Homo sapiens: one gene and its partners. The protein of the gene in region 3 interacts with the protein of the main gene of each other region in a pairwise test. Each region holds a gene or a part of one and is shown on either strand. Other genes may lie near its edges.

Evidence for each region.
Region 1: the proteins of POLR3C (region 3) and KPNA3 interact in binary tests that used the Homo sapiens proteins (3 or more experiments, as listed by UniProt).
Region 2: the proteins of POLR3C (region 3) and ANKRD23 interact in binary tests that used the Homo sapiens proteins (3 or more experiments, as listed by UniProt).
Region 4: the proteins of POLR3C (region 3) and KPNA5 interact in binary tests that used the Homo sapiens proteins (3 or more experiments, as listed by UniProt).
Region 5: the proteins of POLR3C (region 3) and CAMK2B interact in binary tests that used the Homo sapiens proteins (3 or more experiments, as listed by UniProt).
Region 6: the proteins of POLR3C (region 3) and POU6F2 interact in binary tests that used the Homo sapiens proteins (3 or more experiments, as listed by UniProt).
Region 7: the proteins of POLR3C (region 3) and PAX6 interact in binary tests that used the Homo sapiens proteins (3 or more experiments, as listed by UniProt).

The regions. Positions count from the first base shown.
Region 1 is NC_000013.11:49,708,985-49,713,409, forward strand, and holds part of KPNA3 (importin subunit alpha-4), read right to left. Parts: intron 2,039-4,425; coding exon 1,907-2,038; intron 717-1,906; coding exon 588-716; intron 1-587. UniProt on the Homo sapiens protein: Functions in nuclear protein import as an adapter protein for nuclear receptor KPNB1. Binds specifically and directly to substrates containing either a simple or bipartite NLS motif.
Region 2 is NC_000002.12:96,840,793-96,845,818, reverse strand, and holds the start of ANKRD23 (ankyrin repeat domain-containing protein 23), read left to right. Parts: upstream 1-1,797; 5' UTR 1,798-1,826; coding exon 1,827-1,853; intron 1,854-3,307; coding exon 3,308-3,454; intron 3,455-3,633; coding exon 3,634-3,759; intron 3,760-4,906; coding exon 4,907-5,026. UniProt on the Homo sapiens protein: May be involved in the energy metabolism. Could be a molecular link between myofibrillar stretch-induced signaling pathways and muscle gene expression.
Region 3 is NC_000001.11:145,833,702-145,838,126, forward strand, and holds part of POLR3C (DNA-directed RNA polymerase III subunit RPC3), read left to right. Parts: intron 1-2,792; coding exon 2,793-2,873; intron 2,874-3,113; coding exon 3,114-3,165; intron 3,166-3,316; coding exon of another isoform or gene 3,317-3,319; exon of another isoform or gene 3,320-3,790; intron 3,791-3,834; coding exon 3,835-3,895; intron 3,896-4,354; coding exon 4,355-4,425. UniProt on the Homo sapiens protein: DNA-dependent RNA polymerase catalyzes the transcription of DNA into RNA using the four ribonucleoside triphosphates as substrates.
Region 4 is NC_000006.12:116,687,251-116,691,675, reverse strand, and holds part of KPNA5 (importin subunit alpha-6), read right to left. Parts: intron 2,357-4,425; coding exon 2,223-2,356; intron 1-2,222. UniProt on the Homo sapiens protein: Functions in nuclear protein import as an adapter protein for nuclear receptor KPNB1. Binds specifically and directly to substrates containing either a simple or bipartite NLS motif.
Region 5 is NC_000007.14:44,318,455-44,322,879, forward strand, and holds part of CAMK2B (calcium/calmodulin-dependent protein kinase type II subunit beta), read right to left. Parts: intron 4,102-4,425; exon of another isoform or gene 3,154-4,101; intron 2,934-3,153; exon of another isoform or gene 2,815-2,933; intron 1-2,814. UniProt on the Homo sapiens protein: Calcium/calmodulin-dependent protein kinase that functions autonomously after Ca(2+)/calmodulin-binding and autophosphorylation, and is involved in dendritic spine and synapse formation, neuronal plasticity and regulation of sarcoplasmic reticulum Ca(2+) transport in skeletal muscle.
Region 6 is NC_000007.14:39,204,662-39,209,086, reverse strand, and holds part of POU6F2 (POU domain, class 6, transcription factor 2), read right to left. Parts: intron 1,696-4,425; coding exon 1,467-1,695; intron 1-1,466. UniProt on the Homo sapiens protein: Probable transcription factor likely to be involved in early steps in the differentiation of amacrine and ganglion cells. Recognizes and binds to the DNA sequence 5'-ATGCAAAT-3'. Isoform 1 does not bind DNA.
Region 7 is NC_000011.10:31,787,885-31,791,708, forward strand, and holds the end of PAX6 (paired box protein Pax-6), read right to left. Parts: intron 2,977-3,824; coding exon 2,826-2,976; intron 2,441-2,825; exon of another isoform or gene 2,136-2,440; coding exon 2,050-2,135; coding exon of another isoform or gene 1,746-2,049; 3' UTR 1,142-1,745; downstream 1-1,141. UniProt on the Homo sapiens protein: Transcription factor with important functions in the development of the eye, nose, central nervous system and pancreas. Required for the differentiation of pancreatic islet alpha cells.

The DNA of each region.
Region 1 (4,425 bases), on a different chromosome or scaffold from region 3:
ACTTTCAAGCGGCTACTAATTTAATGATTGTTGCTATGCTCAGTCTACTTAAATAGAAACACAGGTAGTCTAAAAATGTTTTTTACTCTGTGATGACCAGGGCAGCACCTACCAGAAGCGATTAAAAGTTGAAAAAGGCTGGGCGCGGTGGCTCACGCCTGTAATCTCAGCACTTTGTGGGGCTGAAGCAGGCGGATCACAAGGTCAGGAGTTCGAGACCAGCCTGGCCAATATGGTGAAACCCCATCTCTACTAAAAATACAAAAATTAGCTGGGCGTGGTGGCGGGCACCTGTAGTCCCAGCTTCTCGGGAGGCTGAGGCAGGAGAATCGCTTGAACCCAGGAGGCAGAGGTTGCAGTGAGCCGAGATCGTGCCACTGCACTCCAGCCTAGGCAACAGACAGACTCTGTCTCAAAAAAAAAAAAAAAAAAGTTGAAGAAAAACATTTGCAGAGGTGATTTAAAATAATTCTCATCTTCGCTGCAGTGGCTTTTAAGAAAAACATACAAGTAGCAATAGAAACAAGGAGACAGTTAAAAATGAGACACAGAAAGAAATAGCATAATGAGGACATTATATGCCTTACCTTATTTATCTTCTCTTTTGGGTGTGATAAGAGATTTGGGAAGTGTGACAGGACATCACAATTGAGAACAACCTGGGTCTGCTCGTCGGTGCCAGTCACTATGTTGCCAACTGCTCTGAGGGCTGCTGTCTAGGGTGGGGATAAAATGTTTTCTATAAATTTATTTGCTTATAAGACTAATTCTATATTTTTCATAATCCTGAGAAAAAGTAAAAATGCAAGGCATAAATAACACTTATTTCATCCTTTCACAAAGCACCAAGCAGTCTGAGAGCTATTCTGAATTTTAAATAGTCTCTTGTGAAAAACTGAAACTTTATGAAAAAAAAAAATTGTGTGAAAATTGGTTGGAAAAAGATTCAAAAAATAAAAGGAAATTAAAATTTTAGAAGAAGTCCAGTTTCTTAAGGCTGGGCATGGTGGCTCATGCCTATAATCCCAGCATTTTGGGAGGCCGAGGCGGGGGGGATCACCTGAGGTCAGGAGTTTAAGACCAGCCTGGGCAACATAGTGAAACTCCATCTCTACTAGAAATACAAAAATTAGCTGGTGTGATGGTGCATGCCTGTAATCCCAGCTACTCTGAAGGCTGAGGCAGGAGAATCACTTGAACCTGAGAGGCAGAGGCTGCGGTGAGCAGAGATCGCGCCACCATACTCCAGCTTGGGCGACAGAACAAGACTCCATCTCAAAAATATATATAATATTTTAATAAACGCCTGGAATGGGCACACACTTCCACCTAGAAAGTCACTTTGGTAAAGCAGGATGAACAGATCTAATAAGTGCCTACCCCTAATTAGAGTGGGAGAGAGAAAGAAGAAATGCAATTAGGTTATTGCAATTATTTGGGGGAAAGATAGAGTCTTGAACTAAATCTGTTGTTCTAGATAGATAAGGAGAGACAGATTTGAACCTATATAAGAAGAATTGAAATGATTTTGTAATGGAATGGGAATTGCAAGGAGGAATCAAAATTTCTAGCTTAGGCCATGCTGTTCACTGAAGGTAGACAAGGAAGAAGAGCAGGTTTGTGGGAGATGATCGTTTCATTTCTGTCTAGTTAACCACGGAAAGCTTGAAGGAGTTCTTAGATGATATGTATAAAGGGTCAAGAACAATTGGCTATACAAGTGTGGAACTCAGCAAAGAAACTGGGTGAGATAAAGATTTGGAAATCAACAAAATCAGGCTCAGGGACTAGCAGAAGAAATGTGGAAGATAAGCACTTACAGATAGAATTAAAGCCTAGCTGTACAAGTTAACTGGTTATAGCAAACACAACTGTATACAAATAAGAAAAATTTAAAAATACTTACTTGAACTTTGACTTCCTGATGGCTCAGAAGGGGCACAAGAAAGGGCACAACTCCTGAATCAATAACCATCTGTATCTGTTCATTACCTCCATCTGTCAAGTATGACAGAGCCCAAACAGTGTCTACAAGAATCTACAGGAAACACAAAAGAAAAACCATTTTACATATTTGTTTGAATGCTTTACTTGTTCAACACACCTCAGGAGTAGTGACAGAAAAAGTAACCAAATTTCAAGTTTTAGCTTAGTGGCAAAAATATCTGCTTAGCTGATTAATCTATTAAGTAGAAAGTACCTTATCTTTCTTTCAGTGCCTACCTCAGATCATTCTTCACAGAAAATGAGACACAGAAGTCTGGGAAAACTTCTATTCCAACTTCTGCATTTATGTATCAGACAGATGAATTTAAAAACAGGCAGAAAAGTAATTCTCCCTGCCCTCACAAATTAGCTACCTAATAATCCCACAGAAAAACACTATTTACAAGAATGAGGCCAACACACCATACTGTTTCAAGTTCAGAAGAGAACAGAAAGGTCATCTATTTACTCTACTGGTTTTCCAACATATTTAGCAATACAATTTTTCAGGCTACTAAAGTAAACCAATAAAAGAAATGACTTGGCACTTTAACTTCATCTGGGGAAAAAACTGTTTGAAAATCTCCTGAAATGTGTCCCCAACTGAAGTATAAACCTGGAGTATAAACCATGCCCTAGGCCTATCCTAACTTTGCAACTACATAGAAGAAAACAGGCTTAGCGATCTGGTGATTCATTCAAGGTCAAAGATCTTGTATGTGGCATTGCTTGGTGTCGTCACAGAGGAATATAAGCACTGGTTGTAGCTTATGCAAAATCAAGATGTTTCCTATTAGGTCATCCAAATTGAAGACATCACATCTTTTTGCCCTAAAATAATAGCAGGCACCTGAATTCACATACCCTTCAAAAAAGGATATAGATGAATAAATAAAATAGAACTACACATATAACCCACACCCCTTCAGCATTACTAAGAGTCAGAGAACACTAAAAATTTCCATTATCTGTAAGAGGAGAAAAAATTAAATTCTAGCTTTTGTCTGGACCTCTTGCCTCAAGACTGTGTAAAAGAGAGGACAGAAGCTGGGCCTAAGAGCTGAGCCCACCTACCAGCCCATTTCCCACTCTGGAAGTGAGGAGGCCTCCCTGCTGGAGGTGTCTGCAGATGCTGGGTCTGAGAACAAAGTCTGGCTACTGCCCACCCTGGCAGTAACAGTAACTAGATTTACCTAGAAACAGGGGTCTCAAAGCATAACACCAATATGTGTAGGCTACAATGGAAAATAACCCTTCATACCAAGATCCAGGAAATTCTCAAAAGAGAAAAGACAGTCAACAGATGCCAATATTGAGATGACACACATATTGGAATTATCTGACAAGGACTTGATAAGATTTTAAAGTAACTATCATAAAAATGCACTGGTGAACAATTATGAACACATTTGAAACAAATTTAAAGTGGGAATTCTCAGCAAAAAAACCCGACATGATAGAAGGGGGAAAAAAAAATAAATGAACCCAAAGATACATCAATAGAAATCATCCAAACTGAATAACAGAAAAAAAAAAAGATTAAACAGAAATTAACTCTCAGGAACTTCCAGCACAATAACAATAGATCTAATATTTGTGTCTTCAGAGACCCTACAAGGAAAGGCGGAGCTGAAAAAAATATGAAGAAATATGTTCCAAATTTGGCAAAATAGATAAGTCTAGAATCAGATTAAAAAATGGGAGGTTGAGGCAAGAAGAGAAAATAGAATAAGCTCATGCATCATTGCACAGGTAAGAGACAGAAGTAAAAAAATATATCATTTAAAACTGTCAAAACAGATAGTAAGAGAGCATTAAAAAGGTGTAAGAATAAAGGTAACCACTAGAACAAAAATACAAACTTCCCCAAATACCAAAAGAAAATTGAGAAAGACAAAAGTATGCTTAGCAGAGAAAAAAAAAAACACAGGGACATTATTTCACAAAATGACAGTTCAAATCAATCTATCAACCTATGTGAATGGGCCTAACTAACCTATTAAAAAAAAAAAAAGATTTTCAAATTGGCCCTGGCTCTCAAAACAAAACCCAATTCCACGCTGTATACAAGAGACACACATAAAACAAAGAATTTGGAAAGGCTAAAAATAAAGGGATGAGCAAAAGTATGCCAAGTAAATGATAAAAAGAAAGCTGAGGTTGTAACCCTGTTAAAAGACGACCAGTAGAATTTAATCTAAAAAGAATTACAAAGAAAAAAGGATACTTTACAAAGTTAAATCCCACAATTTATCATGAAAATACAACAGTTATAAACATCTATTAACCAAATAGCCCTGCAATCACTGTTTTAAAGCAGAGAATAAACACACACACACACACACACACAAATATATGTAAAAACATACTAATAATAGGAGGTTTTAACATACTACTGTCATATGAGGGAAGTCAAATAGGCAAAAAATAAAGGTATAA
Region 2 (5,026 bases), on a different chromosome or scaffold from region 3:
CTCATTTTAGATGACTCTTTCCCTCCTCATAACCAAAAGCAAGGAACAGGCTGGGTGTCACCTGAGGTCAGGAGTTTGAGACCAGCTTGACCAACATGGAGAAGCCCCATCTCTACTAAAAATACAAAATTAGCCAGGGTGATGGCACGTGCCTGTAACCCCAGCTACTCGGGAGGCTGAGGCAGGAGAATCACTTGAACCGGGGAGGTGGAGGTTGCGGTGAGCCAAGATCGCGCCATTGCACTCCAGCCTGGGCACCAAGAGTGAAACTCCATCTCAAAAAGAAAAAAAAAAAAAAAAGCAAGGAACACCTTTGTCTGAAAAAAGCACCCTAAATTTAGCCTAAGAACTAAGTTTTCAGCTGGGCGCGATAGCACAAGCCTGTAATCCCAGCACTCTGGGAGGCTGAGGCGGGTGAATCACAAGGTCAGGAGTTCAGGACCAGCCTGGCCAACATGGTGAAACACCGTCTCTACTAAAAATATAAAAAATTAGCTGGGCATAGTGGCAGGTGCCTGTAATCCCAGCTACTCGGGAGGCTGAGGCAGGAGAATTGCTTGAACCCGGGAGGTGGAGGTTGCAGTGAGCTGAGATCGCGCCACTGCACTCTAGCCCAGGCCACAGAGCGAGATTCCGTCTCAAAAAATTAAAAAAAAAAAGAAAACTTTTTTTTTTTTTTTTTTTTAGACGGAGTCTCACTGTTGCCGGGCCAAGAACTGAGTTTTCTAAGAAAGCTCTGCCTTTTCCTGAGTTCTCTGAAAATGTGGAAGCCCTTCCAAGAGGCCAGTTCTTTGGGAGCTGGGGAGCCATCTGGGGCCTGTGGCCATCCTTGGCCACAGTTCTCCCTCCTTGTACCCTGGTCATGTCTTCTCAGGTTGCTCCGATTTTGGGGTCTTATTTACTGGCTGATTTCCTTGCAAAGGCCAAGGCGGAGTTCAAGGTTCAGCTGGGTGAAGGGCATGCCTGGCTTCCTGAGAATTAGGAAGGGTGACTGATGGCTTGAGACACATTGCTCTGCGGCTGGATTTCATGGTTACTATTCCATCCCGGGACCTGACGCGGATCAGTCTCCCCTTTCCTGTGGCTGGAGGGGCACACTCCGTCCCTGGAGAGCGTCTGGTAGGGGCTTGTAGAGGGGCGGGGAGGACTTCCAGAGGCCCGAGGACAGGCGCCAGGCTTGGCTTCGGGGCTGGGGCAGCTGCCATGTGCTCTCAGAGCACTGAGGGAGGAGCGGGGGAGCCCGGGGGCGAGAAACCCACAGCACAGGGAAGGGAAGGGCAGCCTTGAAACTGCAAGTTGGGAGATCACGGTTTCCTCACGTGGCCACCATGAGGGCTGAGGCTGTAGGCTGGCCGCTCCTGCCCCTCCCGACCACCCCCTCAGGCTTCCAGCCTCCTTGCTCAGCCACCTAGGCTGGGCTTTCAGGTTCACAGGCAGCCGGCCCTACAACATGGAGGCCCAGGCTGGGCTTTCTTCAGGAGTGGCATCTAAACTTAGGAGAGGGGAACACGTTTCACCCGAATCTGGGCTAGCAGTGTGTTGGTTAAATGGCCCCTGAGTAGGTGTGGGGCATGGCAGAGGTGCAGGAGTGGGTGTCCGAGGATGCAGCCAACTCATCTCCAAACAGCTCCTTTTCTTTTCCCCAGTGGGCTGCATTCCCAGACTGGTATTTTAGTTGGTGTGACAGAGTCCCAGAGTCATCTGGCCCAGGGGCTTGCACCTGCGCCAGTCCTTCCCTGTCCACCCCTGCCCGTCTCCAGGCGCTCCTATAAAGGGCTGAGCAGTTCAGCTCTTCTCACTGGGGGGTGTGAGGAACAGGGGGGACCATGGACTTCATCAGCATTCAGCAGTTGGTAAGGATGTGGGACGGAGGTGGGAGGCACCCTGGGACCGGCTTGATAGGAGGAGGCTGGCTAGAGAGGGCTGGCAGCTTCTTTCTGTGGTGTGAGGGTCAAGTCTTAGGTGCAGGGAAGCATGCAGTTCTTTTATAAAAATCTGTATTTTTTGAAACGGAGTCTTGCTGTGTTGCCCAGCCTGGCCTTGAAGTCCCACGCTCAAGTGATCCTCCCACCTGGGCCTCCCAAGTAGCTGGGACTCCAGGCGTGTACCCCCACACCCGGCTGAGCGTGCGGTTCTTTCTGGTGTGTCTGCTCGGTTCTCATGTGAGGTGGTGAGGGGGTTAGGGAGCAAGAGAGGGAAGTCGAATGGGAAAGAAGACATGAAAATCCTTGAGTTCAGTGAGTTTTGCCCTGGATAGTGATGGTGAAAGAGGAACAGGAAATGGCAGGTTACTTTGGAAGATGCAAGTGTGGCTGTGGTGGTTGTAGTTCAGCTTAAGCACCATGATAGTTGTTGCTCTGGAAATGGCCAGAGGTCCTGGCTGCCTTGGGGATAGGGAAGGGTGCTCTTTCGCTCCCTGGGCAGTGAGGGAAACAGTGACTCTTAGGGATGTCGGTTTGAGTGACGAGGGGCCTGGAGGGTGTGAGGCCCAGCAAGCCCATCTGTGGGCTGCTGGCCCCAGCCTGGTGCAGCCTCTGGCGGGAGGCAAATGGCAGGGAGGTGTTAGGTTGCTAGAGTTCTTTAGAAGGAATATGGTTCTACCTGACTAGAAAGTCCTAGGATCTGTTACCCTATCATTCCACCCTGTTCTTTCCCCACAACAGGCTGATTCCTCAGTGCTCCCCAGCTCCTGAACTCCTGAGGTGGGGCCCGGTGGGAGGAAGCATGGGTGTTTGCTACGGAGGCTTTGCCCCAGGCACAGGTCCCAATAACTCATAACCTTCACAACTCCTTTAGGCAATTGCCTTAAGTGTTTGAGCTTAAATGTAGCTTCAAAAGGAGCCGAGAACTGAACCCAGGCATTTAGAATTTTACCCCGGGGGGACTTCTCTGTCCCTCTGAGCTTGGAGTCAGGTGGCAGTCAGTATGATCTGGTAGGAATCTTAACAACATGGGGGAAGCTAAGGTGTCATCTGCCCTGAGGCTACCTGGGCAAATGCCCAGCAGTATAAATAGGTTGTGGCCTCATGTCCCCCCAGCTGTGTTCCTGCTGACAGGAGCAGGGTAGGCGGGGATCCGTTGTCCCCCTGGGTGTCAGCTGATGACACAGTTGCGGAGCCTGCAGCACCCACAGGGTGAGGGAGCTTGCCAGCACTCTGGACTGCAGGAGCTTTGAGGCCGGCTCCCATCCCGGGCACCAGCCTTGTGACATCTGCCCTTATAAGACAGCTCCCTGCTACTCCACAGCTCTGTTTTCTAAGGGTTCCTCCAATTTTCCCAACTCAGTACTCATATCCTGTTCCTACAGGTAAGTGGAGAAAGAGTTGAAGGGAAAGTGTTGGGATTTGGACATGGAGTTCCTGACCCTGGAGCCTGGCCTAGTGACTGGAGGAGGGGCCCCCAAGAGGCTGTGGCCCGGGAGAAGCTGAAATTGGAAGAAGAGAAGAAGAAGAAAGTGAGAGAGGGGCGGGGGCCGGGGTTGGGGGCAGTGGCTAATCCCTGAGGCCGGCTGAGCAGTGAGGCCTGGAGGGACTCTGGTGGGGCAGCCTGAGCAGCTGGTGTCTCCTGTCGGCAGGGCAGAGAGATCTCTTGACCAGCGGCTGATGGCTGGCATGGTCTTGTCTTCTGCCCCAGCTTGAAAGATTTAACAGTACCAGATTTAATCTGGATAACCTGGCTGACTTGGAAAACTTGGTTCAAAGACGGAAAAAGCGACTGAGACACAGAGTCCCCCCCAGGAAACCTGAGCCCCTGGTTAAGGTGAGTGGGAGGTCGGGGTTAGGGCAGTGCACACACCAGGGCTCCAGTTCCAGAGGAAGGGCTTGGGGCAGAGTGGGCACTGCAGGCCAGGACCACACAGCCAGTGCCTGGGGAGCCCATTAAATCCACTCCAGAGCCCCCGCGGATGTGTCCGCCAGGGCTGCCATAACAAAGTCCCACAGCCTGGACAGCCTCAACAGCAGGCATGTGTCACCTCGCTGTCCTGGGGGCTGGAAGGCTAACAGGAAGGTGTTGGCGAGGCTGGTTCCCTCTGAGGGTGGTGAGGGAGAATCCCTTCATGCCTCTCCGGCTTCTGGTGGATGCTGGTGATCTTTGGCGTTCCTTGGCTTGTAGATGTATCACCCAACTATTGCCTTCATGTTTGCTGGGCGTTCTGCCTGTGTGCATGCCTGTGTCCATGTGTCTCCCCCAACTTTTTTTTTTTTTTTTTTTTTTTTTTTGAGACGGAGTCTCGCTCTGTTGCCCAGGCTGGAGAGCAGTGGCACGATCTCGGATTACTGCAAGCTCTGCCTCCCGGGTTCATGCCATTCTCCTGCCTCAGCCTCCCGAGTAGCTGGGACCACAGGCACCCGCCACCACGCCCGGCTAATTTTTTTTTGTATTTTTAGTAGAGATGGGGTTTCACCGTGTTAGCCAGGATGGTCTCAATCTCCTGTCCTTGTGGTCTGCCCGCCTCAGCCTCCCAAAGTGCTGGGATTACAGGCATGAGCCACCGCATCCGGCCCACGTGTCCCCTTTCATAAGGACATCAGTCACATTGGATTAGAGCCCACTTTAACACAAGTCATATTGGTGAGGGGCCCACCATACGCCGGTGTGACCTCATCTTAACTAATTACATCCTCAGTGACTCTGTTTCCAAATAAGGTCACATTCTGAGGTACCTGGGGTTAGTACTTCATACGAATCTTGGGGAGATACAAGTCAATCCATAACACACACGCTCACACACACACAGTCTATTCAATCTCCTGGCGTGGGATTAGAATAAGAAACTGCATTAGTACGAGCCAGCAGTGTTCCTTGGTGGGCTGCATGGGACCCGTGGGCCAGACTGGTGAAGCTGTGACATCTTGGGCACCTGCGGCCTTCGGGAGTGATTTGGTCTTGTCTTCAACTGAACCAGCCGCAGTCCCAGGCCCAGGTGGAGCCTGTGGGCCTGGAGATGTTCCTGAAGGCAGCTGCTGAGAACCAGGAGTACCTGATTGACAAGTACTTGACAGACGGAGGGGACCCCAATGCCCAT
Region 3 (4,425 bases):
GTGGAGCAGGGATTATCTTCAAGTGATGAGCACTGAAATGTTTGGTCTCTTAGGATCCAGCTTTTAAAAATCTACACTATTCACTTAGTCAAAGTATCTATTCGTCAAGTACAGCCTATTCCTAATTATTTTAAGAATCCACAATTTGGACTCTGAGAGCCTTGGCATTCAGGACATTATTTGACCCCCTGTACTTAAAATATCGATATTTAATATATCCAATATGTGTTATTTATATTACTTTCATAGTAATACAGTCATGCATCACTTAACAGCAGGGATACATTCTGAGAAATGTGTCGTTAGGTGATTTCATCATTGTGTGAACATCATAGGGTGTACTTAACACAAACCTAGATGGTGTAGCCCTACAGCACACCTAGACTGAACGGGATAGCCTATGGCTTCTAGGCTGTAAACCTGTACAGCATGTTACTGTACTGAATACTGTAGGCAGTTGTAACGCAGTAGCATCTGTGTATCTAAACATCTAATCACAGAAAAGGTACAGTAAAAATATGGTATGAAAAATTAAAAACCACACCTGTTTAGTGCACTTAACATGAATGGAGCTTTCAGGACTAAAAGTTGCCCTGTGGGAGTTAGTGAATGAATGGCAGATTAATGTGAATGTGATGGTCTACACGCTCAGGCTACACTGTATTTATTAAAAACCAGTAACAGGCTGAGCGGGGTGGCTCACGCCTGTAATCCTAGCACTTTGGGAGGCCCAGGCTGGTGGGTTGCCTGAGCTCAGGCGTTTGAGACCAGCCTGGGCAACATGGTGAAACCCATCTACTAAAATACAAAAAAAAAAAAAAAAATTAGCCGGGCATGGTGGCATGCGCCTGTGGTCCCAGCTACTCGGGAGGCTGAGGCAGGAGAATTGCTTGAACCCAGGAGGCAGAGGTTGCAGTGAGCCAAGATCATACCACTGCACTCCAGCCTCACCACACATGTGAGTAATGTGTTTCACAACGGCATTGTGCTATGATGTTACAACAGCTATGACATCACAAAGCAGTAGGAATTTTTCAGCTCCAGTATAATATGGGACCACAGCTGCACACGGTCCGTTGTTGACTAAAATGTTATATGGTGCATGACTGTGTTTAAATATTCCTATATTTTTATATTGTTTATTTTAAAGTTCTATGGCCAGGTGCAGTGACTCACACTTGTAATCCTAGAACTTTGGGAGGTTGAGGCAGAAGGATCCCTTGAGGCCAGGAGTTGAAGACCAACCTGGGCAACATGACAAGACCCCCGTCTCTACAAAAAATTTTTTTAAAAAATTAGTTGGGTGTGGTGCCATATGCCTGTAGTCACAGCTATTCGAGAGGCTGAGGCAGGAGGATTGCTTGAGCCCAAGAGTTGAGGTTGCAGTCAACTATGATCATGCCACTGCACTCCAGCTTAAACAACAGAGCAAAACCCTATTTCAAAAAAAAAAAAAAAAAAAAAAGGCCGGACGCAGCAGCTCACACCCGTAATCCCAGTACTTTGGGTGGCCGAGGCAGGCAGATCACCTGAGGAGTTCAAGACCAGCATAGTCCAACATGGTGAAACCTCATCTCTACTAAAATTACAGAAATTAGCCAGGCATGGTGATGGGCGCCTGTAATCCCAGCTACTTGGGAGGCTGAGGCAGGAGAATCGCTTGAACCCGGGAATGGGAGGTTGCAGTGAGCTGAGATCGCACCACTGCACTCTAGCCTGGGAAACAGAGTGAGACTCTGTCTCAAAAAAAAAAAAAAAGTTTGGTATATATCTTTATTCAGACCTTGCATACTCTAACATATATGTGGGTATATGTATTTTTTAACCCCAAAATGGGACTATTCATATGGCTTTTTGGTTGGGTTTTGTTTGTTTGTTTTTGTTTTTTTGTGACAGAGTCTTGTACTCTTTCACCCAGGCTGGAGTGCAGTAGCGCAATCTCAGCTCACTGCAACCTCCGCCTCCTGGGTTCAAGGCATTCTCCTGCTCATCCTTCCGAGTAGCTGAGATCACAGGCACATGCCACCACGCCAGGCTAATTTTTGTATTTTTAGTAGAGACAGGGTTTCACTGTGTTGGCCAGGCTGGTCTCGAACTCCTGACATCAAGTGATCCTCCCACCTCAGCCTCTCAAAGTGCTGGCATTACAAAGTCGTGATCCACCACACCCAACCTAGTCATACTGTTCTATAACTTGATTTTTTATATGACAGTGTATGTAAAACTTCCTTTCATGTTAGTTTCTGTAGATTTGTCTCACTCTTCATAATGACTGTATCATATTCCACTTAATGGCCGTGCTATATTTTATTTTAGTGTACTCGGTACTGGTCATTTGGGTGTTTCTAGTTTTTTACTCTTACAAACAATCCTGCTGTGAATATTTTTGGACAGTTTTGTGGTAACTAAAATTAAAACTTTTTTTTTTTTTTTTTTGAGACGGAGTTTCGCCCTTGTAGCCCAGGCTGGAGTCCATTGGCGCAATCTCGGCTCACTGCAACCTCTGCCTCCCAGGTTCAAGCAGTTCTCCTGCCTCAGCCTCCCAAATAGCTGGGATTACAGGCATGCGCCACCACGTCCAGCTAATTCTGTATTTTTACTAGAGACGGGGTTTCACCATATTGGTCAGGCTGGTCTCCAACTCTTGACCCAAAGTGATCCACCTGCCTCAGCCTCCCAAAGTGTTCGGATTACAGGCCTTAGCCACTGTGCCCGGCCTAAAACATCTTTATTTCAGTAAGGTCAGGAGTTCTAAGTTCCCAAACCCATTTTAAGTGTCCTTTGCTCCATAGATCTTCAGATCCCTACCTGTTGGCTATAACATCTCTAAGCAAGTTCTTGATCAGTATCTCACTCTGCTGGCAGATGATCCAGTAAGTCTGTTTTTGCTTTTTTTCTTTTTTCTTTAGCCTGTACTGTTGATAATTTATTTCTGCACTGATACCTAGTGTCATCCTCCTGCAGAGTTATTCTCTACCTAGCCAGCCCAGACAATTTCTCCACATCATTTGATAGGAGGGCTACCTGCTGCAGACTTTTGGTCAGATTTGTTCCATTGGAAACAGAATCACTGGACTTTCCGTTCAGTTAACACTCTCTCTTTTTCTTAATAGCTAGAGTTTGTTGGAAAGTCTGGCGACAGTGGTGGAGGAATGTATGTCATCAGTATCCTTACCAGTTATTTCCTTAGAGTCAGGCAGCCTGACCTATAAATCAGAATGGTGCCTTAGGAAAGAAAGATTTGGTAATGTTTATTATACTAAATAAATTAGAAAATTGAAGTAATTGTTAAATAAATTTTTCTATGAATTTTCAGTGAACTGCATTGATGATGAAGTAAAAAGAGGCCAGGCATGGTGGACTTTGGGAGGCTGAGGCAGGTGAATTGCATGAACCCAGGAGTTCAAGATCAGCTAAGCAACATGGCAAAACCCCATCTCTACCAAAAATACAAAAACTAGCCAGCTGTAACGATGCATGCTTGTAGTCCAGCTCCTCAGGAGGCTGAGGTGGGAGGATCGCTAGAGCCCAGGAGACAGACGTTGCAGTAAGCTGAGATCATGCCACTGTACTCCAACCTGGGTGACCCTGTCTCAAAAAAGAAAAGGAAAAAGGACTTTTAATCAACCAAATTTTAGTTAAGCAAAACCCTTACTTAAACACTTGTATTAAAGTTTTGGAATATTTATGTACCATGACTGAAACCATAAATTATAACATGAAAAACAAAATAGCATTTAAAATTTAATTATAAATTAGAAACTTAGGAATAAAACTCAGATCACAATAACTAGGCCAAAACATTACTGAGTGACCTTAATTCTCTACATAAAGACCTCCATAAGGCATTAGCATCCCTAGCCACAGCCACTCTGGAGTCCGTCGTACAGGAGAGGTAAGGGGGACACTGGTTGGGTTTGGGATCACATACTTCCTATCCCCAGTGAAGTAATTTGATCATTATGTAAGCCACCAATATAACCACACCTTGGCATACTTTTCCCCATTTTTTCACTGGACTCCTATGGATCTCATGTAATACTGCTCTTTACCTTAAAATAACCTACTGTTTAATTCCTACCGATGCAAATTAACCAGCCTCCCTAAAGCCTTTGCTTACAAATGTAGGAACTGTGGCACTCAAATGAGTCAGCAGTTGGTGACTGCCTTATGATTAACAGCAGTTGGTGATGCCTTACCATCACCAACCTATGGAGCTGTAGAATAATTTTCTGATCACTGTTCCTGTCTGGTACTGGCTTCACACATGGAATAGAACAACCACCCCATCTATGACTGGGAACTAAAGCTGATCTATGTTAGCATGCCATTTGCTTTCTTCATTCCTTTCCAGATTTGGGTCTCGCTGTGCTAGAATATTCCGTCTAGTTTTGCAGAAGAAACACATAGAGCAGAAGCAAGTGG
Region 4 (4,425 bases), on a different chromosome or scaffold from region 3:
GAAAGATAACATCTGATACATTAACAGATTTAGTATATCTGATTAACAAGGAATAGAAAACAAATCTTAGGAATGACAGTACTATGCTTATTAATTCAGGAGCAGATAAAAATGAAGCAGAAAAAAAGAAGAAAGAAACATGGTGAGTTCACTAAAGGAGATTTATAGGTACAGTTGGCCCTCCATATCTGTGAGTTCCACATTCCCAGATTCAACCAACCTCAGATCAAAAATAATAATAACAATAAAAAATAAGAAGCCAAGCATGGCAGCACGTGCCTCTGGTCTCAGCTACTTGAGAAGCTGAGGTGGGAGGGCTGCACAAGCCCAGGAATTGGAGGGCAACCTGGGCAACACAGCAAGACCCCATCTCTTAAAAATAAACAACAACAACAAAATACGAAAATAAAAAATAATACATATTTTATTTCACTTTATTTTATTTTTTGAGACGGAGTCTCGCTCTGTCTCCAGGACAGAGTGCAGTGGCACAATCTCGGCTCACTGCAACCTCCACCTCCTGGGTTCAAGCGATCCTCCTGCCTAAACCTCCTGAGTAGCTGGGATTATAGGCGTGCGCCACCATGCTCGGCTAATTTTTTTATTTTTAGTAGAGACGGGGTTTCACCATGTTGGTCAGGCTGGTCTCAAACTCCTGACCTCAGGTGACCCGCCCACCTAGGCCTCCCAAAGTGCTGGGATTATAGGCATAAGCCACTGAGCCCGACAATAATACATATTTTAAAACAACACAGTATAACAACTCAACTACACAGCATTTACACTGTATTAGATATTATAAGTAATCTGGAGATGACTCAAAATATACAAGAGGATGTGTGCAGGTAATATGCAAATACCATGCCATTTTACATAAAGGACCTGAGCATCAGTGAATTTTGATATCTGCAGAGGATCCTGGAACCAAGGGATAACTCTACATTTCCTAAATCAAAATTTGAGGAAAACAAAATCTGCTTATATTCTTTTTGACATCTAAATAAATATCGTTCTTCTTTTTTTTTTTTTTTTTGAGATGGAGTCTTACTCTGTCGCCCAGGCTGGAGTGCAGTGGCATCAACTCGGCTCACTGCAAACTCTGCCTCCCGAATTCACGCCATTCTCCTGCCTCAGCCTCCTGAGTAGCTGGGACAACAGGCGCCAGCCACCACGCATGTCTAATTTTTTTGAGATGGGGTTTCACCTTGTTAGCCAGGATGGTCTCAATCTCCTGACCTCGTGATCCGCCCGCCTCAGCCTCCCAAAGTGCTGGGATTAAAGGGGTGAGCCAGGGCTCCCAGCCTGTTCTTCTTTAATATGTAAACAATCTTCCTTCTAATCATTTATTCAACACAATTTTTTTAGTACCTACTATAATGTATGAAGGATTGTGTTAGACGCTGTAGATAGGGAGATGAGAAATCATTATCATATTTCTGAAATAGGCCTTGCCTATTACATGCCTGTAATCCTAGCACTTTGAGAGACAGAGGCAGGAATATTGCTTGAGGCGAGGAGTTCAATACCAGCCTGGGCAACATAGCAGGACCCCATCTCTACTTACAGAATACAATAGAATAGAATACAATAGAAGAGAATAGGCCTTTTCTACTTTCTTCACTGCTAGTCCTTTTCATACATCAGTTTTAATTCACATGTGTGAGAACCACATTATTTTACTTACTTACAAATACTTCTACATTTAAGTACATCTTGGAATAAAAAATGTTGAGATGTACTCTCTTAAACAATTTTATATTCTTTATGTCACATATGAAAAGTATAAACAGAGATCCAGCTAATAAGACAATGGGGGAACAGTATGAATAGCATGGGAAGATGACAATAATTTACTTACGGGCAAGAATTATGAAAACTACAAAGCAGCAAATAATATATAATTAATGTTTCTTTAAGGGGCAAATTTTACAATGACAAATGGAAGTGATCTAAATAGATGCAAGAGGAAAAATTTCCTAGCAGTAGGGTAAAAATATAATTAACACAACAGGTTTATCAATAAAACAGAAAATCCATTTCTCCCAGTGACTAAAGTAGCACAGAGTTCTGTTTCACAAATTTGCAATTATGATGCCTGGAGTCTAATAAATAATAGATTTAGCTATATTCAATTTCTTAAAACATTTCCATTTAAAATTATCCAATAATTAGCAAATAATTAAAATTTTAAAAAACAAAATTAAATAGCTAAAAACACCTACCTGTTCTTCTCTTTTTTGTTTTCTAAGCTGTATTCCTTCTTCTTCTCTTCGTCTACGCATCTCTTGAGGATTTAGGGCTTTATTCTTATAACTTTTCATTCTATAGTTATCTTTCCCTGGACTAGCCATGGCATCTTAAAGGAAGGAGAAAAGAAAACAGACACTGATAACTCACTCTCTCAAAACAACATGAGACACTTAATCTAGCAACTAAATTCAGGCTCACTGATTAACAGGTCAACAAAACCCATTCTGAAAATTATGTACAAAGAATACATTCCCTTAATTCCACATCAAGATTAGAGCAAAATGACCACATATTTTAGAAATAATATCTTAAACAAATAATTTTGGTCTAAACAAAGACAAAGTTTACCCTATCTTATTGATTCTAAGATGCAACAACCTTTCCTGTCTCCCTAGCCCCCACAGTGTTTTAACCTTTCTGAAACATAATTACTGTCAGGAAATAATCATGAATTATTTGGGTTAAAAAAAAAGTCTTCTAAATTACAGTTTCTGGCTAGATCAAGAAATAACCAGCTTTGAAGTATCTTATTTTTAATGAAATATGATATTAGGCTCCAGTAAGCACATCTCAAATATTTATTGGGGTCTGGCTTCTTTCACTTACTGAAGGCATTGCCTTAAGAGCTATGGCCACAAGGGTCAGGACTTGAATTATGACTACAATATCAGTTTTTAGTACTCCAGTATAATTAGTTCTTTTGAAATACTAAAATACATGTATACTTTATTTTTAAGTAGTTTTATTGCAAATGTATTTTAAAACATTAACATTTATATACCTATTTTATAAATACATAAAATATATGCAAATATATTTCATATTTGAATATATGTGCTAGTTTTACTTTTAGAAAGTGAATTATAAACTTTAACAATGTAACAGTATTGATATCTTGATATTATCTTATAGGAATATTAAAATACTGATATTATAACCTATTCTGGACTTACACATCACACACACACAAAATCTGCCTAAAGCAGGGTGCCAACTTCAGTTTAACAGTAGATAGTGAGTACCCAGTATGTTATTCTGTTAAATTCAGAGGACATATCCATGTCCAACCAGAGACAATGTTGTGACCAATTAGCTTATGAAGTAAACACAAGAGAAGGAGAGGCTGGCATCTGTCTGCCATCCCTGATATTGAAGAGACAGACTAATGAATTGGCAAATTTTATTGTAAGGAGTACACTAAAATACATGCTTTAAATCTTGAGAGAGCAGTGAAGATATGGCAACTAATTGTGCCTTAGGGACTTCTGAAAGCTTCATGGGTATCCTATTTTAAAGGAAAAACAGGAAAGAGAAATGGGGAGAATCAAGCATTTCAAGCAGAAGGAATATATGCAAAGGCAAAGTTTTTGAAGAAGCCTTGCATAACCAAGAACAGTAAGAGACTAAGTGTGTCCAAAATGAGGATGCATGGCAGAACATAAAGCTATAAAGGTAGGTTAGAGGACATATGGTTCCTATAATGCAGCTGTGAAATTTGGACTTGATCCTAAGGAATAGAATTAAACAAATTAAGGAAAAGGTTGTTTTTACATAGTTCAGAGAGAGAGATAGGAAAGATGCTGAAGGCGTGAACTAAACAAGTTACTACAATGAAAACATAGAAGACAAGTTGGATTCTAGAAATATTTCTGAAATTGATTCAGTAAAAATTAGAGGCCAAATGAATGTAACAGATATCTGGTGAGGAAGAAAAGGGAGTTGAGGATGACTCCATGGTTTTTAACTGAGCCATCTGAGTAGTATGGCAAGATAACATAAGACAGAGAATACGGATGGAGGATCAGAGTAGTGGTTGTTGTGTTTACATATCGGCTTGTTTCTGAGACAAGAATAATGAATTCCGTTATTTTAGGTTTATTTTTAAATTTATATTTAGTAAAAATCACTCTTTTCGTATACATTTCTATGAATTTAACAAATATACATGCATGTAACTATCACAATCAAGACACAGAACAGTTGTCACCCCCTAAAACTCCCTCAAGCTGCTCCTATTAGCCCTCCCTGACCCTTAACATCTGGTAAAAAGTTAATTCTCCATCCCTATAGTTCTGCCTTTTCCTGAATTTCAGAAAAGTGGATTCATACAGCATGTAGTCTTTTAAATCTGACTTCCCAGAAAAAGTATAAAATACCTCAAAATATAGCCAGCCA
Region 5 (4,425 bases), on a different chromosome or scaffold from region 3:
TCACTGTGGAGCACCTACTGTGTGCCAGGCACTGTTCTCAGCACTTGAATTCAGGGTGTGTTGGGTGACAGAATCAAGGCTCCTCAGCTCCTTGCTGGAAACGGCACTCACTGGGATGTGCTTGACACCCAGAGGGCATTACAGCAAAAGGCATAACACCTGCAGTACTTCATTGTAAGGGCGACAGCAGCTCCTGCCCTCCAGGCTTCTCTTGCTGCTCACAAAGTGAGGAAACAAGGACTGTGGGTCCCAAATTCCACCCTGTACAAGTGTGCCATTATGCTTCCTCCCATAAAATCTTCTTAAATCTTTGCCTGGTTGTTGCCAATCTGTTCTAGAATTCAACAAAAGCTTCTGTCTGGCTTAACAAAGAATCATAACTTAAGTTATTTTTGGATAATTATGTCAATACAAAAAGAACTATGTCCACCAGGAACTGAGCCCTCAACAAGTGACCCTCTAACCCAGGAGACAAAAGCCACCCAAAAGTTTGGCAGCTAGCAACACCACCTTTCTCTAACATAAAAGGATGTTTTCATTTTAAATAAATTCAAGTTTTTCTATGAATAAAATATACATATCTGTGTAATATGCCAATATGATAATTTTTTAAAAACCAAGTTGATACATAATGCATTTTTATGTTTCTACACTAACAAAGTGACTTGCAGCTGTAAAAGATGCTTTAAAAATAATCAAATCAGATTCAATTTTTGTGGGGGAAGAGAGAGAGAATTAAATTTTTTGAAAATATATTTAAAATCTCCAGAAAGGCCACATCTCTTGCCTGGATGAGGGAGGTGGCATCACGGAACACAGGGAAATGGGAGTGGTCTTCCCAGGGACAGACATTGCACACTTATCTCCACCTGGTCTCTTCTAGTAAATTACTGTTAAATTCTAGGGTGGCTCAATATAGACTCTTTAAAGGCCAATGGAGCAAAAATGAGGGAAACATCCCTGTTAGAATTTTTAAGTAGAAGATACAAAACCTAAACATTGCATATCTCTCCCCTCTGCTCTTCGGGATTCCTAGAAAAGGGGGATGGAAAGATGGGAATAGGTCCTTCAGTTCTTTCAAGTGAGACCTGAGACATCCTTAGTCCTGTGGCCTTTGACCGCGGCAGGAGTCCACTTGCACCCACCTCCACAGGCCCAGCCCCTGCAGCTGGTCGTGCTGAGAACACAGCTTTCCTTCACAACAGTTGGGCCCTCCTAATGACCTTTCAGGCCCTGATTTCAAATATAGCATCCTATTATATATCCCATCACACTTGCTAGAGGATGGGTCCCAATTTTTGGTTTAAAAAATGTGGCCAACGCGTATGCACACATTTCTCTGCTAAGAATTGGAAGGCACTTAGCTGAAGAAAAGACTTACTGACACGGGGGGTCGTCATGAAAGTGTTGGGCAAACAGATTGCAGAATCACATATATGGTGATTCCATCTGTGTTTTGAAATCATCTATATCTGCTATATATGTAGATGTGTATATATGTACACACACACATATCCTCATACTGACATTAAAATTAAGAGGCCAGGTACCTCTGGAGAGTGAGGGAACTTGAGTGTAAAGGAGTCACATTTTACGGCACGTACTTCTGTATTACTTGGTGTGTGTGTGTATGTGTCTGTGTGTGTTTTACAAGATCATATTGCCCTGGTAATTTAATTAATAAAATAAAAATTTCTAGTCTTGCTGGTGTCATATGGAGTCAGAGTGTTGGTTGTCTTTGATGACGAAACGAAGTAACATCTTCACAAAGGGGAACCTAGAGGTAGGGGGCCCTTGGTTTGGAAAAGCACAAATACATCATGGTGAGCAGCCGGCCAAGGACAGGTGCCCAAAAGCCTCAGGTCAGAGTAGACCACAAGCTGGCCATGAGTCAGCCAGTGGAGTCACAGCATTTTTAAAGCACAGAATAGAGTAGGGTAATGAGCTTCTGAGAGGAGCAGAATGTGGATTCAAATCCTGACCCTGTGTGACCTTTCCTGGGGAATGGGGCTTCTCTGTGCCTCAGCTACCTCTCCTGTAAACTTGGGATGATTACAGTACCTACTTCACAGATCTAGCGCGTTAATATAATAAGCACCATTTAAGCGCTAGCAACTGTTACCAGAAAAGAAAAGTCCTGGTAGCAAGCATGCAGATATATTCTTAGCTCTCAGCAAAGTAGGTTATGGTATAAAAATACCATTAAATAGTAACTAAACTAGCATCACCTTAATGCACATCTTGCCAGCAATCTCAGCATGTGCGACTTCTTTTTAAACTACCCTACATTAAGGAATCAAGACCAGGAGGACTCTTGCTGGCCTCCTGGGAGCCAGGCCGGAAGGCAGAGGCCCACCCAACTCACCCCTTCCCCACCTCGGGCCAGGCACTGGGGACACAACCATGGCAGGGAGCCGGACCTCCGCCTCTCTGTGGGTAAGCTGTCCAGCACATCAGATGGGGCAAAGTGCCAGGGAGAAGACAAGCTAGGGGGAGGGGCAGGGAGCAGTGGGGAGGCAAAAGGAGAGCCAGGGCAGGGGGCATCTGGGAGAGCCTGCTGAGCAGCCCAAGGGAGTGAGCTGTGAGGGGTCAGGGGAAGAGAGGCAGCTTGGCCAAGGCCCCCGAGGCAGGGAGTGCCTGGTGTGCTCTGGGGAGAGAGAAAGCAAATACGATGATCCCTCCTCCTCCATTCCTCTCTTCCCTGGCAACCGGCTCAGAGCTTGGAGACTCAAAAATTGATTCGCTCTGAATTTCCTAAGTTTATCTATTAACTACCTAACAGGCCATTCGCTTGTTCACAGTGTGCCTCTCGGCAGAAGGCATCCGCCAGCTGACAGTGATGCCCCCGCGAGCGGTCAGGCCACACACACCCCAGGATATAGTCGCTTGCTGGCGACTGGGGTACCACTGGATGGAGTCAAGGACATATCAAGGTCAGTTTTGGGCCTATCTCAGGTTTAGTGGGAGAGATGGGAGGGGTGGGAGATGCCCTAGACTGGAGCTCAGGGGCCATTCTTGCTGCCTGGGCTTGGGCAAGTTGCCAATCTTTCCTGAACTTCGGTTCTTTGTCTGTAAAATGGGGCTGGGGAGAAGGGCCTTTCTGGACAATTGGAATCAAATAAAACCAAACATTTAAAGTAATGTACACATTAGGTGTTGTTACAACATGGCCCAGCCCTAGCTGCCATCTCCGCCAAAAAAGGAGGGGCCCATGAACCCCTGAAATGAAATCCAAAACCTCGTGGGAGATGCTTTCTTCTAGGGAGATCTCCATGTTTGAAAAGAGACAACTCCCCAAAAATGGAAGATTCACGAGGCTGAATACAAAATGTGAGACCTCTTCCTACCCAACAAACGGTCGACACTGACAACCCATCAACACTGACAACCTGCCAACCTGAGGAATGGCAGCACCCAGGGAAAGGGGCGGCCCCAACGCTGCTGTGTGAGTGGACACTGCAGGGAGAGTGGCGGCACCTGCAAAGACAGAAGACTCGAGGACCCTCCTCGGCAGCCCCACTGCCAGGGACACACCCTAAAGAAACTCTCACACCTGCGCCCCAGACGCATTCAGGGCCCGGGCCGTGACGGTGCTGGCCACAGTGTGCTGAGTGACAATGGAACACAGGAGACAACCTAGATTTCCATTGGGATGGGGGCACGCAGGACAGTGTTCACACTACAGGTCGCCACGCAGCAGCCTGCGATCAAACACATCGACGAGCACAGGTGTCAACAAGACTGTTGAGTGAAAAGTACAAGTTCCAGGTTTTTTATGTAAAGTTAAGAAAAACACCCACACAAAACAATCCTATATATTAGTTATGGATACTTATATCCATGTGTAAATGTACCCGAAAGAGCCTGGGAGGAAAAATACAAAAGCAGTAGTTGGAAGGAAATGGGTTACTTAATATTTCTTTGTAATACTTCTTATAATTTTTTTAAAAAAGGACTTAAAGCCAAAATGACAAAAGAGTAACCATTTTCAATTCTGTGTAGAAGAGATACTGTGTTCATTTTATTATTTCTGGGATTTTTCTGGATTTTTAAAGTTTATCCAATATAAAAAAAATAAAAACTGCACTGTTGGCTGGGCCATGCCGGGCTGAGGGCTTCCTTGCCTTGCTCTGTACCTGCTCCCACATGGGCCACCAGGCTAGTGTCTGTGAGCCCTGCCAGGCTGAGCAGGGAAGGGCACACACTCCCTATAGAGCTGGGCAGGGCAGGGCCCCAGAAAGCGGCCCCTCTTGGCTGGCTGACCCTGCTGCCCAGGCCTCTGGGGAAGATTCGGGAGCAGAGACAGCAGAAAAGGATGGGGCAAGGGAGGGGAAAGGCCAGTGGCCTCGTCACACATGAGCAGCTGTGGGCCTGAGGCCAAGCCCTTCCTTTGGGCAGGGAGCTCAGCGCCACCTGACTGGGTGC
Region 6 (4,425 bases), on a different chromosome or scaffold from region 3:
TGATCAAGAAATAACAAGCCTACTTTTTTTTTAAACTCTGATTTTTGGCAACCATCTTAACCAAGCAGGATTAATTCATGGCCTAGGAGCTCTTTGAGCTTATGTTTATTTATAATATTCAATATTCCCATAAGCACAAATGTTCCAAACGGAAGGCTGCATTTTGATAATGCCCATTTCTTCATTAAGATTTCATCATCCACCTACATTAAAACGCCTCTCCCTACACTTTGTTGCTTCGGCTTTCACCTTGTGTATTCCTGCTTTATTTGCTTAATCTTGAGATCTGGCTTCCCAGGCACTCTCAAATTTGAAACAAGCAAAGTTTGTGCATTAGCGTATCCTGGGCATGCATGATTTATGAATGGCAGGTTTCTTGGCACAATTTAATGGTACAAGAGAGACTTCGTTTTAAACATCAAAATGGAAGTCAAGAAGTGGCAACAATGGGTGGGGTAACAGAACATAGAGAACGGAAAGAAGTTTGGGTCAAGAGTGAACAGTTCTTACTTGGTCTGTTTCTTAGTCTTGTGGACTGATTCTCCGATAAATTATATGAAGCCCTAACATTTGACCAGCTAAAAAAGTATTTTAAATTGCTATTCTGATAACTTACCCAGACAGGCCCTCATTCTGCAAAAATTTTAATTGTTAATTTTATATATATATGAAGAAAACAAACATCTTTGACTAGTCCAAAATAAATTCATTTTCTCTTTAGCAGGCATCCTATTTATATTCAGGTCATTTTCCACCAAAATAATTACTCCTCTGACAGAATCTTTTGTAAATCAATCTATCAGTCAATGCTACCAAATCTTTTAAAGAAAAGTCAAAACCTTCATAATATCAAGACAACTACCCTTCCTAAGTAAAATTAGAGTCTGACTTGTTATATGTCCCTGTAGTATAAAGGCTCAACATACAAGTCTATTTTTCTCATTGCAAAATATGAGCTCAAATAACACAATTTTTGTTTAATAACTATAACTAAAACATACTTTGTAGAGCAAAATAATCATTAATAAATTATTCCAAATAATATCTTGTATTTGAGATGTTCCAATCACTTCAAACACAAAAAAGCAACCTCTAACTTTTCTTTACCCATGGCTAAATTGAAGAATTGGTGAGATGATAACTCAGGTCTTCAAATAACAACACAGGAATTTTACTTTTAAGTTTCTGATATGTCATGCAATGATGACTCATAAATGCTTCCAGGAGTCCTGAAAAGTTTTGATACCAATGTTAGGAAATGAGGATTGATAAAACCAATGGCTTGTGCAGGCTCAGGATTCACAGACAACTGAAAATTTTGCTTCCTGTGGAAGCCTTCCATATCATTTAGGGCAGAAGCAACTCTGAACCACATTCACCATTCTAGGCACATTTTTTTTTGCCCACTTCAGAGAATACTGGCCAACGGGTAGAGCCTTACGTGGCGCATGGACATTATGGATTACCTTGTAGATTTTGCAGTGGCAGAGTCATAATGCCTCCGGCTGCAGCTGCTGCCACCAGCCCTTGGATGTTGGTGAGATTCGCTGTTGGCAGTGTGAGAACCAGTCCTTGCTGGCCTCCTAGCTGTCCCGCCATGTTGAAGGGAATGAGGATTGGCTGGTTGAGGGCTGGGGGGCCTCCCGGCATCACGCCGGCCACAGCAGAAGCTAACTGCTGTGCCGTCAGAAGTGGCTGCAAGGAAACAGATACAGCTAGCTCACTTTCCTGTGGAACCAAGGCATGGGTTTTAAAAACATCTTCTTTCCACTTAAGTAGGGTCAGAAAGTTCCCGAAGAAGTACCAAAAAACATGCCCTATCTCATTAAAAAAAAATGATTGGTAGAAAAAAATTTTCAAAGTTGCATTTCATTGATTTCTTTGGAAAATTTCATTTGGTTTGGACTTCTTGTGAGGAACTCAAATATCTTTACAAGTAATAACTTACGTTTATATGCTACTCTTCCATTGAGTTTCCATTTGATCCTATCTTCATATATTTGAAGCTCTCAGCTAATTTATTCTCTGTTGTTCCAGAAAGAACTCATTGGGATCAGTGGGATTTTTTGATTCAAAAAGAGCAACGAAATACTACTTTTGACTTTTAAATTAACAAAAATAATGTAGAAAATTTACTCAATGCTGGAAAGTCTGTATTGACACCATTATGCAGATCTATGGCTGGGGGACATGTACACTAGCATAATCCTTTTGGAAAGCAATTTAGAAATAGATTATCAAGAGCTGCAAAAATATTTATCCCCCTTTAACTCAGAATATACTCCTAGGATATAGCTTGAAGATATTATTCAAAAGGAAATAAGATAACTGCATAAAAACATGTATTGTTTCAAAATACATAAATATTGAAAATAGCTTATTACAGTACTAAACTAGATGAAATATTGCATAGTCATTAAAATGGATCATTATGACACCTCTTTAGAAAAATAGAAAATGTTTATAATATGAGAATAAAATAGAAAGTAAGCTGGATAACTATTAAGTAAACTTGAATGATTATTGTTAAAATGGTAGAATTATGTATGTACAATGACAAGATCTAAAACAGAATGTAAGACATAAAAATATTTGATGTGGATAAAACTTAAAATCTTTGAAAATAATTCTTTTGTTATTACTCTAACATCATTTGCCCAATTAAAATGATATTATACAAACACATGTTTACATCCACTATGGATGGAACAGCCCTTCTCTGGTAGGGAAAGGCAACTGCTCGGCATGTTTTGAGTGCAGCACGTGGGCTCTTCACCAGGATGACATGGGAAGGATTCCTGCCCTGGTCAAGCCAGATGACCACAAGAGTCATTTGATCTTAGAGTCCTTGATTCAGGACTTTCATTGCAGCCTTGTGGGAGCCATGTGGAACATAATAATCCTGTATCTGTTGTTCTTCTACAAGAACCAATGCAAAACTCTTATGTGAGGGGTAGGAAATTAAATACAGGCATACTACTAAGCTCAATGTATAATAGCCAGGCACTATTCTAATGCTGTAGTTAATCTACCAATGAGATACAGAGAGGTTAGTAACTTGCCCAAGTCCCATGTCTAGTTGAGAGGGGGTTCAAGTTCAAGCCCAGGAAGGCTGCTCCACAGCCCATGTTTTACCCCTTTCTTGTATCCCCTCCAATACAAAGAACAGATTTAGAGAAGTGGGGCTGCTTTATCTGAAGAATGAGGGGAGGTGTGGAGAGGGCTAAGCCCATACTTGGCCATTCCCTGCAGTGTTCCTTTCAGGACCCTTTGGGGGAGACTCTGCAGAGCCCTAGGATTCTGCACAGCTGAGTTTAGAACTGCTGCTTTAGACCCCACAGGCCTTGCTCCTAATGTATTTGTGCACTTTGCTAAATTCACACCAAGTAACTGTGCTTCCCTTTTTAAAAAAATACAGTTATTCTAATGAGCAAAATAAATATACTTCGGGAATGTATACAAAATTATATGCTGGCCCTCAGATTCCAGGTGTTACATCACTGCCAATAGTGATATTATGGTAAGAGGGAAGGCAAATAAGTAGCTCTCAGACCATATATGGGTCATAGATTTGGGGGTTTTGGCCTGCAGCATTTTAAAAATAGGATTTGTGGGCTCAAGGCAGGGCATGCACTCTCCAGTTTGTCGGAGGGCCACCACTCCTCACTGACCTGGGCCTGTGGGGCTGCCTACCCAACCTGAAGGCATTAGAGTGTGTTACCCCCAGTATGTTCACAGGCAGGTGTGCAGACATACACACACACAGACACACATAATTACATGAACACACACACAATGTTACAAGCATAAAATTATAAAGCGTATGACACCAAAAATCCTGTTCCTGAGAGTCCCAGGAAAACTCTCTAGGCTTCCATAAGCCAGCAGACATTTCCCCAGGCTTTCTGTCCACAGGCACAGAGTGATCTGTCCTCCGAGATGGACTACGGGATCTGAGGCCATAGGGAGTCTTGGTGGCGAGTGGAATAAGAATGTCAAGGCCAACCCTCACTCTAAACTTGGGTGAGCCCTCAATGTGCTTAAAGTCATTAACTTCCAGGAGCAATAATGACAATAAAAGGGAGAGAAAGGCCCAAGTCTCAGCTTCTCTTTCCAAAAAAGCAGGATGAACTCTGAAAGCTTCACACTAAATGATAGAGGTAAAAAGGAAAAAAAAAAAAAAAAGCCCAGCCTTTTATAATTGTGTTCTACATCTCCATATAGCCCACACCAGGCTGCAAAAAACAAATATTGGACTTTAAAAAATAATGATTGTATTTCTTTATTAATGCAAGAGCTATGTGTGATGTACAGTATTGTCAAACCCAATAAGCTGAACTTGCATTAAAATTGCATTAACTTTTTTATATTAAATCACATCTTCTATTTCAAAAATGGCTATAGTAAGGTTGAAATAACTTAATT
Region 7 (3,824 bases), on a different chromosome or scaffold from region 3:
ATCATTTGCTTTTGGGGATTTTTTTAAAGCAGAGTATAATTCAGTGGAAGTGTGTCTTTGTCCCCAGAGGTTTCTGCATGTGCAAGCATTTTAATCTAGACTGCCAGAACCCCCAGGCTTTTTAGTGAAGTTTGCAGAGGAAGACTTATCTGTATTGACTTATATGTTGCACAGAACAAATGAAAGTCTCAGACAGTCCTTTTTTACCCAACAAAGGCTTATTTTTTTCCATCCTTTGCTTGGGCTCAAGCACTCCTGCCCTGCGTGCCTCCACTTTAAACATGATCAGAACTGTGCTTCATTGCAAATAACAACTGACCAACAATGGGCCCTGCTTCATAGATTTGGGAATGTTTGGCTTAAGCTGCCAATGACTGAAGGCCTTTAATTCCCACCGGCCAGTCACAGTCTGCTTTGTTGTTGTCTGTTGATGTGTCTGTGCTCATTATTCCTTGACATGCAACATCCCCCCTCCACCCTCCAACCATCCACAACCGCACAGAAAGCAAGATTCAAATGGGAACAGCTGTAGTGGTTCAATGGGAAATGATGCCTCTTGTGCAAAGGGGAGGGAGACAGAAAAGGGAGAGGGCCTATTTGAAAAAGGCAACAGCTTTCAGAAAGTCTCCTTTAAGAAATCTACTTTTGAATATACTTCAGTGAAATCATTGTTGAAATAGGCTGACAATGGAAATCTGCCCAGATTGAAAATGCCAGTCCTAATTCAAAAAACAATTCCTAGCTAATCGCTTGTTGCATTTTTAAATTATTTCTAGACTTTGAGCTTTAGAATTAAATGGCTAACTGGGAAATGTTACCATTTTGTATATATGTTGTGGGTATAAATGGGCACAGATCTACACCCTGCTGTAAGTGGAATTTTTTTCTAACACGTTTTTGATTTATGGTATCTATAAGGATTATTTTTTAAGGATCATCAGGATGTAAAACAGAGTGTGTGTGAAAGTAACCATTGGTTTAGAATGTTGATCTAACATGGAAATAAAATTTGTAACACCACACTATAAGGTTAAAAAGAAAACTGTATAATAAAGGAAATACAAAGGCTTTGGCATGGTTTTTTACAATCAACAATGGTTAATTTTGATATGTAGTTGTGAACAACTTCAAAACACTTAAGTTTAAAACTCTTGCAAGCACTTTTAATTGATTAGGAATGAACTCTAGATGCACAAAATGATTGGACCGTGAACAGTAATACAACTATATCTAAGAACAATTAACTTTTGCTGGCCAAAAAAGAAACGTATGATTGCATGAAAATGTGTATAAAACATCTATATTCTTGTCAAATATAAATGAAATTAACTTTATTATAGAAATCATTCTGAGGATTTCTAGGGAAGACAAATACTTACATTTTGACATAAAACAAATTGGATTATATCGAAGACACACTCTACCTTTTAGCTATCAACTTTTTTTCTTCCTTGAATTTATATCTTACCCTTTTTTGCACATAAACTTCATCTGTTAACAACCTTTGGAAAACCAACAGATATTTCTGACATAAATCTAGTGCATGTTGTTCCAGGTTTAATTATATGCAAAGGAATGATACAAACTTGGAACATCAGTCCATAAACTATGAACAGATGGGTAGAAGTATTCGATATATCTTGATAAAACTCTTAAATTCGTGGCAAAGCTTGTTGATCATGGTTTTCTTTTTAAAAAAAAAAAAAACAACTTCATGACCAACACAGATCAAACATCCATCCAGTCTACATTGTTCTTTTTTTCATTATAACATACAAATGCCCATTTACAAATAATACACCAAAATGAATAAAAGTTTGGATACCAAAATGAAGATTTGTTCCAACTGATATCGTGCCTTCTGTATACAAAGGTCCTTGTTTCAAGTCCATTCCTTCCCCAGTGGTACAATACAGGACACAATTGTAGAACTGAAGCGGCTCTAACAGCCATTTTTCTTTCTTTCCTGAAAGCTCAACTGTTGTGTCCCCATAGTCACTGACTGAATTAACACAATATTTCCTTTCCTTTTTTTTTTTTTTTTTTTTTTTACTGTAATCTTGGCCAGTATTGAGACATATCAGGTTCACTTCCGGGAACTTGAACTGGAACTGACACACCAGGGGAAATGAGTCCTAGAAGTGGATGAAAGAAATAGCCATGTAGATATTCCCTTTGAGAAACAGACATGGAATACAAATTTATAGGTTTACAAAAAAAAAAAAAAAAAAAAAAACTAATACTTTCTAACATTTTTTACTGTATTAAAATCACTTCAATTGTTACAAATAAAAGTAGCACCTTCAGAAACTAGACAATATATGTATATATACCTATTGGATCCCAAGTACCCCCCACCCCAATCCAAAGGAAAAGAAAAAAAAAATCCTCTGTTTGTTTGCATGTTTGGAACTTTTACAATAAAGCTGTCTCTGGAAAACCAATGTGTCACTTTTTATTTCCAGCAAAAGGTCTAGAGGAGCTATGAGGGCAAGAAGCATTTCAACAAGCACGCACCTACAGCTCAGTGGGCCCCCTACTGAGCTTCGTCTAATAATCTGTCCTCAGAAAACTTGCAGTCTCAGGCCTTGTCTTCATACACAACTTTTGTGACCAAATTCAGGAAAAACAATTTTAGTTTTTGTCTATATGGTGTAAAGTTACTAATTAGCTTAACTGAATTTCCCTTTTCAATCCCCATCCCCCAGGGACAAGGAAAGCAAGGAGTTAAACACGCCCTCCCATAAGACCAGGAGATTCTGTTTGGGTAAACTTCTAGTGAAGAGAGATCGCCTCTGTGCAGCCTGCAGAAAGCAGTGGCTCACCTGTTGAAGTGGTGCCCGAGGTGCCCATTGGCTGACTGTTCATGTGTGTCTGCATATGTGGGGGGGTGTAGGTATCATAACTCCGCCCATTCACCGAAGGGCTGGTGGGCAGCATGCAGGAGTATGAGGAGGTCTGGCTGGGGACTGGGGGCTGTGAGGAGAGAGGCAAACCTGTGGTTACTGAGGAACACATCACACAGCCACAGCCCCAGGCTCCCTCCTCCCGAGGAACTCTGCCAACAAGTCTGATCATTAAAGATGCCTTCACGTGAAGTACTGGAATTCCATATGATAAATCTAAGATTGGGCCTCGAGCTAGTCCTTCCACTGGCCACAGCTAGAAGAAAGCTGCCTATGTATCAAGCCTCTAAAGCACTTTAGGTTCTGACAACTGTCCAGCTAGATGGTTGCCACTATCCATAAATTAATAGGATTTTTGTCTCTAACCTCTGCTAGCATCTTTGAAGAACCTATAGCATGAGGACCTTCATCAAAACACATCCCCTCTCCCTGCAAATCTGGATTTATTTGGGAACCCTATGACCCCCAGAGCCCATATCTCAAGCTTTGGGACAGAGAGCAGTGGGAGGAGCTCTCAGTAAAGTATGGTTCAGGGACCTTGGGAACCTTTCACTGATGGGATTAAAGATTCTTTGAAGAAGCAGATCTGTAATGACCCCAAGTTAAAGTGATCAGAAGTGTTAGTAAATATAACGACCTCCATCCTGAGAATTAACCATGACTTCCTAACAGACCCAAAAGCCCAGACTGACTTATAACTAGAAAACTGTTGCTACCCTCGAACTGTTCGGAATGGCAGCACTGAGGAGGTAAACCTTTCTCCTAACAAAACGCCTCATGAGCTCTCATGGTACTATGCCATGGCAGCAAACTTGGGATGAATTAAAAGAAGTGTGTCGGGAACAAGCAGGTCAGATGATAGTACAGTATACTATCATTTCTCTTCTCTGCAAACTGGAGAAATGTTTAATTTCCAAA